2 separate regions of the Homo sapiens genome follow, and region 1 is linked to region 2. Evidence: fine-mapped QTL for protein levels in blood plasma. A gene starts in region 2. The other region holds a variant in brackets. All regions are shown on one strand. Distances are from middle to middle. Region 1 overlaps PHLDB1 (pleckstrin homology like domain family B member 1). Region 2 holds the start of TMEM25 (transmembrane protein 25).

Evidence for each region. PIP is the chance, under the fine-mapping model, that this variant and not a neighbour inherited with it causes the effect. Protein levels are from antibody-based Olink assays in UK Biobank. Linkage for the fine-mapping came from a reference panel and not from the study's own genotypes, which makes the PIPs less certain.
Region 1: its variant is fine-mapped to the plasma level of the TMEM25 protein (UK Biobank, PIP above 0.99).

What each region holds. Positions count from the first base shown.
Region 1 is chr11:118,628,564-118,631,443 of GRCh38, forward strand. It overlaps PHLDB1 (pleckstrin homology like domain family B member 1), which reads left to right. Exons shown (of 23, transcript NM_001144758.3): 6 at 1-87; 7 at 2,644-2,880. Among named protein-coding and RNA genes, the nearest start is that of MIR6716, 14 kb to the right of the region's middle. RefSeq lists enhancers at 2,264-2,772, 2,773-2,880. The variant A/G (reference allele first, on the strand shown) is at 1,683.
Region 2 is chr11:118,528,990-118,534,387 of GRCh38, forward strand. TMEM25 (transmembrane protein 25) reads left to right here and starts at 2,203. Exons shown (of 9, transcript NM_032780.4): 1 at 2,203-2,245; 2 at 2,786-2,882; 3 at 3,161-3,472; 4 at 3,928-4,218; 5 at 4,431-4,562; 6 at 4,868-4,898; 7 at 5,040-5,140; 8 at 5,277-5,366. The coding sequence starts at 2,813. TTC36 (tetratricopeptide repeat domain 36) reads left to right here. Exons shown (of 3, transcript NM_001080441.4): 3 at 1,665-2,004. The coding sequence ends at 1,927. TTC36-AS1 (TTC36 and KMT2A antisense RNA 1) reads right to left here and starts at 1,786. Exons shown (of 3, transcript NR_120574.1): 1 at 1,515-1,786. RefSeq lists silencers at 665-959, 1,481-1,760, 1,881-2,320, 2,351-2,450.

The sequences.
Region 1 (2,880 bases), 98 kb after region 2:
GAGATCAGTGACAATGAGGACGACCTCCTGGAGTACCACCGGCGACAGCGCCAAGAGCGGCTCCGGGAGCAGGAGATGGAGAGGCTGGTGAGCGGGTGCCAGGGAGGCTTGCCACTGTCCATGGCAGAGTCTCTGCCAGGGCTCGAGCAGGCCAGCTGGCAGAGCAGGAGAGGCCCTCAAACAGGGCTTCGGCTTCTCAAGGTTCCCCACCTCCAGGATACACTTTAGTGATCAATATCTTATGGTTCTGGTGCCGTGAAGAAGAAATTCCTTTGAAATCTCTAAGACTTTATTTTAAATTCTTGCTAATTTTGCATTTATTCAACATAGCATTTGTTTTAATGTTAAATTAAATTTCACATTGTTTACCTGAGCACAGTGAAGCTCTAGGAAAACATACCACAGGTATGGTAAGACCTCGAACCTCCCAGTTTGAGAAGCAGTTGGTGATCATGAGTAGGCTGAAGCTCAGAGAGGGGAATGGCTTTGTCCAAGGTCACACAGCAAGTTCTGGCAGAGCTAGAATTGGAACCCAGGTCCCCTGTCTGACTCTTTCTGAGACTTGTTCTTTAGAAAAGTACCTTGTCCTTCTTTTTTGCTTGTCTTTGGCCTCTACAAGTGGGTGGGAGCTGCTCATCCTGGCCCAGGCAGTATCATCTAGGAGTGCAGGTGGCAGGGTAGAGGGACAGAGCAGGATAGGCAACCCTGGCCTGACCGTTAGCCAGCCTGTGTAATTGTGACTGTGTGTGTCCATGTGCATGCACGTGGGTGCATGCAGGGGCTGGGTGTGGCTCTAGGCAGCTGTCCTGGAGATGGCATCTGAGCTGGGTGGGGGCCAGGATTCCCCAGATAGCTCAGGGAGCTTAAGGGGCTCTGGCTGGTGTGTACACAGTCGAGCCCATGTACAGAAGAATGGATTCTGCCCTCTGTCCCTTACGAGCAGAACAGGGTTCTTTGGAAGGTGGGCAGGAACCCTGGGATTGGTTTGAGGAAGAGAACCAGAACTGATGAGAACCAGAACTGAAGCATCTGGAGATGCTTTTGGAAGAGGTTGGGACAGTTTTGGATGAGGGTATAGGATTGTGTGTTTGTGTTGGATGGGGGTGAGATGAGGCGGATCCCATCTTTTCCTTTGCTGCATCTTCTCTTCACTGTTTTTGCATTGGTCTAGACGGGAATGCATGGCCATTCTAAGCTGGGGTCTCATCCTGGAGAGGGGGCAGTGAGCCTGGCACAGGCAGAGTGGCAGGCACAGCCTCCCCCAACTCCTCCATCAGTTTTCCCACCCCCATTCCCACACATAAGCACACATCTTACCACTAGTCCTGACCTGCCTCACCTGCCACTTTAAGTCTTGGAGGCTGCCCGCCCTGCCCCTCCCACCTCAACCAGGCTGCTTATCTGGGTCCTGGGGCAGGGGTGGAGGCACTGGCCCAGCCTCCCAGGTGCCGAGGCTCTGTTCCGGTTTTTTTTTTTTTTTTTTGCCATGGAACTGGGCAAGCAACAGGAGGGAAGCTGGGTAAGTGTATGAGAACACCTCTCCAGCCTTCTCTCCACTTCCTGCGGTTTGGGTTCATGGCCAAACTGTAAGTGATGAGAGACACTTGAGGAGGTCTAGGGACCCTAGAGAGCCATGGAAGCCTCACAAACCAGGCTTCAGGCCTATAGGTAGGCCTGCGGGA[A/G]AAGGCAACAAAGACCAGGAATGTGATTGTGTCATCCCTCCTTTACCTCCTAGGCCCCTGAGAGGTGACTGTATCTGGGTGGGTGTGTATGTGGAGAGGGGTGGATGAAGTGGTAGGGCCATGGGAGTACTCACTCATGGGCCTGGGCATTCAAGGACTGGCAGCAGCCCATCCTGCTGATAAACAGCCAAGGGCTGCCTGAGGGTAACTTGGAGCTGAGGTGGGGACAAAGAGGGCCGTGTCCTTGGTCTACCTCTTCTCCATGTATGTCTGTGGTTGGGTGTCTGGTCCCTGTGGGCTCATGGGTCTGTTTTCCAGCACTGTCTGTCTGCATACATGCCCACCTGTCTGTATGCTAGACTGTGTTTATCTGTGAGTGTGCATCAGTGTGCATTTGTGCATGTCAGGGCTGGTGTCTCTGTACTTGCCTATTAATGCAGGGCCAGGGCACATGTTGTATCCTTGTGTGCCTGTGCATCAGTGCTGGTGTGTCAGTATGTGTCCTTGTGTCTGTAGATCTGTGTGTACCTGCGTCAGGACGAGCAACTGAGTTTATCTGTGTCTCATTGTGGTCTGTAGTCTGCTTAACAGTGTGTTTCTGTATGTGTTTAGTGTGTTACTGTGGGTCCATTTGGTGTGTTCCTGTGTGTCCTGGGGTAGACTGAAAAAAGAAAGGAACAGGAAGATGGAAGGGGCTGTCCCAGAAGTGGGCAGGAAGAACCAGGCTGTTATGCCATGTGGGCATGTGGCACAACAGCCTCGTTCTTCCTGCCCACTTCTGGGGCACCTTGTTTCCCTCTGCCTCCCCTAGGTCTTGGGGTCAGGCCTCTCCTGACTTGACACTGATGTCCTAGCCCCCTGTAACCCTGCTCTCCCTCCTGACAGGATACTGAACCTGGCTCTATCCCCACCAGGGCTCAGCTTCCTCCCCTTCATGTCCTGCTCTGTCCATCCTCCCCAGGAACGCCAGCGCCTGGAGACCATCCTGAACCTGTGTGCCGAATACAGCCGGGCTGATGGGGGACCTGAGGCTGGGGAGCTTCCCAGCATTGGGGAGGCCACCGCAGCATTGGCACTGGCAGGCCGGAGGCCCTCACGAGGCCTTGCAGGGGCCTCTGGGCGGAGCAGCGAGGAGCCTGGCGTTGCCACCCAACGCCTATGGGAGAGTATGGAGCGCTCAGATGAGGAAAATCTCAAG
Region 2 (5,398 bases):
GATTAAGGAACAGTTAATGAGAGCCTACTATGTGGCAGTAGGCTGGTGCTGAGGACACTGAGATAAAAGGTATATGGATCACCAACATTTATATAGCAGTCACTATGTACCAGGCATTAATCACTTTACATACAAACTAGTAAATCAATCCTCACAACAACCCTAAAAAGTATGTACTATTGTTATCCCCAGTTTATAGATGAAGAAACTGAAGCATGAAGAGGCTAAGTAACTTGCCCACTATCATACAGTCAGGCAGCAGCAGAGCTGGGATGTCAACCAGGTGGTAGGGCTCGAGTGTGTGCTCTTAATCCCCACATGATACTGCTCCTCGAAAAGCTCCCAGTCCAGGAGGCAGGGCAGACACATAATTCTGAGACCAGCAAAACAAGTTCGAGAGGGGTCAGCGTGGGACCTGTTCCTGAAGGGCGAGTTTTGAAGGATGAGTGGGAGTTAGTTGGTGGGTGGAGAAGGTACAGTCTGTAGAGGTCCAAAACTCCTGCTGCATTCAGGTTATTCTAATTAAGTGAAGACAATGGGACCATGCTGGGGACCAAAGATGAGGCTAATGTGAAGGTATAAACCACGGAAACCTAGTACTACTTGACTGTTAGGAGCAGTGGTGACACAGGTGCTCCCAGAACCAGCAATGCCAGGCTAGGGAGTTTTGAGTCCACTCCAGGAACAATGGGAACCTCCCAGGAGCCCCTTATCCAGGCTTATCTGCCCCAGATCACTGGAGACAGCCTGCAGACCAAAACCCCAGAGAGATGCAGTGGTGATTCCAACTGGAGATTCCTCCAGACCAGCTCCTCCGAGGGAAACCAAGGAGTACTGCATTCTGAGCGCTTCTCCGGAGGCTCAGGCTCTTTGGGGGACTAGAGAACATGAGTGAATTGAAGCAGAGCCCGAAAGAAGCCAGCCTGGTGGACTTTAAGAAGGTGGCTGGCTGCCTGAAGTTCTGAGTTCAGAGTTCTGAGGCCCAACCCAAGTATTTTATGAGAATAATAACAATAAAAATGGTGCAGGCCAGCTCTGGCTCCAGGACCAAGGAAATTAGATACATGGAGATAACCAAAGAATGATGAAAGGCAATCAGTCCAGGATACAGGGGAGAGAGAAGGTGTTCTAAAGAAAGCAATGGAAAAGAGAAAACGGCCCTCAAAAGGAAAACAATGAGAAACTGTCTTGATTGTACTTGTAAGAAATGATTGTGCGGTTAATATTATTTTTTGAACCCTGACATTCAGAGTCAGTCACCTGGCACATAGTGGATGCTTAATAACAGGTGTGGAATAAATTGGCTGCTACTTGCCCGGGCAGTGGGCCAGACTCATAAACATAGTGGCCATTCAGAATCCTGCAACGTTCATGTTTTCGTGTATTAGCGGTGGAAAATAATAGGAACAAGGCGAGACCTGGACTTCAGTCCCAGCTCTGCCACTAAGTGGCTTGGCTGTAGAGCTTAACTCTTCCACAGTCTTCATCTGTGTAATGGGAATAACGATCCGTACCTCTAGCAGGTGCGAGGCGGGTTGTAAATGGCCACGCCCGGGAGCCGCAAGAACCACGGTGATCCGCGCGGCCGCAGGTGGGCTGGGGCTCGGGCAAGGCCGCCCTGGCCTCCGCTGACCCCCGCCCCGCCCGTCTCGTCGGTCCCGCAGGCGCCCTGGAGGATCTGGAACGCGCGGTGGAGCTGAGCGGCGGCCGGGGCCGCGCCGCCCGCCAGAGCTTTGTGCAGCGCGGACTCCTGGCGCGGCTGCAGGGCCGAGACGACGACGCCCGCAGGGACTTCGAGAGGGCGGCACGGCTGGGCAGCCCCTTCGCGCGGCGCCAGCTGGTGCTGCTCAACCCCTACGCCGCGCTGTGCAACCGCATGCTGGCCGACATGATGGGGCAGCTGCGCCGCCCCCGTGACAGCCGCTGAGCGCCGCGGACCCGGGCGTCCGCGGGCGAGGGGACGGGACTGGGCCCTGAACCAATAAAGCCGTCGGGCCTCACCGACTCCGCCTGCTCCTGCGTCCTGCCCGCGCCCGGAGAGAAGGGCACTCGGGGGTACTCGGCGCGGGCTGGGGACCAGCCGGGGGGTGGTGAGCCGCGGCCGCCCACCTGCCGGGTAAGGGCCCCTCGGGCCCGTGGTCGGGCATCGATTGGCCCCGCCTGGCGCAGCCCCCGCCCCTGCAGCGGACTGCGGTGCTCATCAGACCTGAGCAGTTGCTCCGGCGGCGCTCGGGGAGGGAGCCAGGTGAGCCGCCCCGGTGGCGGGGGGCGGGGGCGGGATGCTCGGCGACCCCACCCTCCGACCCTCTCCTCTTCCGCCGACATCCACCGGAGCCACCAACATCAGGAAAGGGGGCGTAGGGCGAGGGATGGGAGAGAGAACAGGGCAGGAGAGAGGATGGGAACAGGGCAGGAGAGAGAATAGGATTAGGAGAAAGGCGATCCCTTTGGGGGAGGGGCGCGTGGAGTATGTGTGTGAGTGTGCGTGTGTGCAAGGTGTGGTTGCACGGATGCTCGTTGCTTCTGCGTATCTGCGGGTGTGTGCCTCTTTGTATTGTAGCCTGGAGTCAGTGCTCGCTTCTGCGCCTGCAGGATGTCCATGTGTCTGCTGGGTGGGTCTGTGCCTTTGGGCTTTGCCGTTCGTGTCCGTGCCTTCGCCACTGGGGGCTGGTCTACATTTGCGTTTCCGTACATGGTTCTTTTTGTTTCTGGAGAGTAAATTCCTGGAGCAATTGCTAGGCCTGCCTGCTGTCACCTGGCTGACAGGCCCGCCCCCTTCTCTCAGCAGCCTAGGGCCTAGGCCCGGGCCACCATGGCGCTGCCTCCAGGCCCAGCCGCCCTCCGGCACACACTGCTGCTCCTGCCAGCCCTTCTGAGCTCAGGTACACCCCTGTTCAGTCGTTGACCAAGTCCTTCTGGGTTCCAAAGCCCCCTCTCTCCCCTGTCTGCACTTCTGTTTGGGTACCCACTCCAGGCCCCAAGCCCTGGAGTCCCTGTCCCCTTCACCCACCTACCCTAGGTCCAACCAGCCAGTCCCTGGTGAGAGGACTCAGGTGCCCTTTCCTTTGGCCTGCTGCTCTTCTCACTGGGCCAATTCCTGGTCACAGCACAGTACCAACCGTGCCTGAGCCCTTCCCAGAGGCCTCCTGCTGTGTTCCAGGTTGGGGGGAGTTGGAGCCACAAATAGATGGTCAGACCTGGGCTGAGCGGGCACTTCGGGAGAATGAACGCCACGCCTTCACCTGCCGGGTGGCAGGGGGGCCTGGCACCCCCAGATTGGCCTGGTATCTGGATGGACAGCTGCAGGAGGCCAGCACCTCAAGACTGCTGAGCGTGGGAGGGGAGGCCTTCTCTGGAGGCACCAGCACCTTCACTGTCACTGCCCATCGGGCCCAGCATGAGCTCAACTGCTCTCTGCAGGACCCCAGAAGTGGCCGATCAGCCAACGCCTCTGTCATCCTTAATGTGCAATGTGAGTGGCCCTGAGGTGGGCAGGGAGATAGGTTCTTTGCCCAGGGACCCCCAGCACCCACCAGGCAGGTGGTCCGCAGGACATTTAGCAGACACTTAAGCACTTTGCAAATATGAACTCATTTGATCCTCTGAGTAACCCCATGAGGTCATTACTATTGTCGTCACCATTTTACAAATAAGAAAACTGAGGCAGAAAGAGGTAAGCAATCTGCCCAGGGTGATGATCCCGCTGGTAAGAAGCAGAGCCAGGATTCACATCTGGGCATTTGGCTCTAGTATTTACACTCATAATCACTCCGAAATGCTGCCTCTCTGGCAGACCCAGCCATCCTGTTCCTCAGCATCCCCTCTGAGGAGAGGCCCAGGCCCCTGGCTCCCATCTGGGTTTGGGAAGAAAGGGCTAGAAGTATGAGGGGCTGTGGTGAGAGCATATTGGCCTCTGCTTTGTACCAGTCAAGCCAGAGATTGCCCAAGTCGGCGCCAAGTACCAGGAAGCTCAGGGCCCAGGCCTCCTGGTTGTCCTGTTTGCCCTGGTGCGTGCCAACCCGCCGGCCAATGTCACCTGGATCGACCAGGATGGGCCAGTGACTGTCAACACCTCTGACTTCCTGGTGCTGGATGCGCAGAACTACCCCTGGCTCACCAACCACACGGTGCAGCTGCAGCTCCGCAGCCTGGCACACAACCTCTCGGTGGTGGCCACCAATGACGTGGGTGTCACCAGTGCGTCGCTTCCAGCCCCAGGTGAGCATGGCCAGCAAGCGGCCCTGCAAAGCTTCAGGTGGGCTCAGGGGTCCCGTCCCCATACAGAAATGGGAATACTTGTTGCCCTGTGGTTGGGTCTTGTGGATGAACTGTCCCCAGCCACCCTGGGCAAGGAGGGCAGAGTAGTACCTATGGCATGTTGGGGCTGGGGCACTACCCACTTGGGACCTGACACAGAGGACATCCTCCAGGGCTTCTGGCTACCCGGGTGGAAGTGCCACTGCTGGGCATTGTTGTGGCTGCTGGGCTTGCACTGGGCACCCTCGTGGGGTTCAGCACCTTGGTGGCCTGCCTGGTCTGCAGAAAAGAGAAGAAAACCAAAGGTAGGCCAGGGACACTGGGGGCAGTGTGGATGAGGTCAGGCTGAGCAGCAGCCAAGACAGCAAGTGCAGCTGGGCAGAACCAGTCATCTCTGACGGTGGCAGAGCACTTCCAGGGGGTGGCCATGGGTACGGTGACATGCATCCCAGGTAGCAGGGTCAAGCACTGGGAACCCAGTCTCTGGCCCCAGGGCCAGGCCTGGGCATTTGAGAGACCCCTTGCCTGAGGGTCCTGGGTCTGAAAGGGTAGGACAGCCCAGCGTGGGAGGGCACACTGAGAATTAGGGACATGGTTTCTTTCTCCACAGGCCCCTCCCGGCACCCATCTCTGATATCAAGGTAACTCTTCCTTGGGCTGGGTGGACAAGCCTAACCGAAATGCAGGATGGGGACAGGAGGGAGCCTGGGGTTTCTGGTAGAGGCAGCCATGAGTGCCTGTGCCGGGACTCATATCCATCCCGAACTTTGTCCTCCCTGTAGTGACTCCAACAACCTAAAACTCAACAACGTGCGCCTGCCACGGGAGAACATGTCCCTCCCGTCCAACCTTCAGCTCAATGACCTCACTCCAGATTCCAGAGGTATATCTAGGGCCCTGCTCTTTGCCCCTGCTTAATCTCCAGAAGTGCTTCTGAGAAAAAGAACTTGGTGCTTGGGAGGGGCGAGGCCTCATCAGGCACACTCCTCGTCCTGAACACTGCCCTCTTTGTCAACCAGCAGTGAAACCAGCAGACCGGCAGATGGCTCAGAACAACAGCCGGCCAGAGCTTCTGGACCCGGAGCCCGGCGGCCTCCTCACCAGCCAAGGTACTGGGGAAGGGGCCTGCCACCCTCCTCCT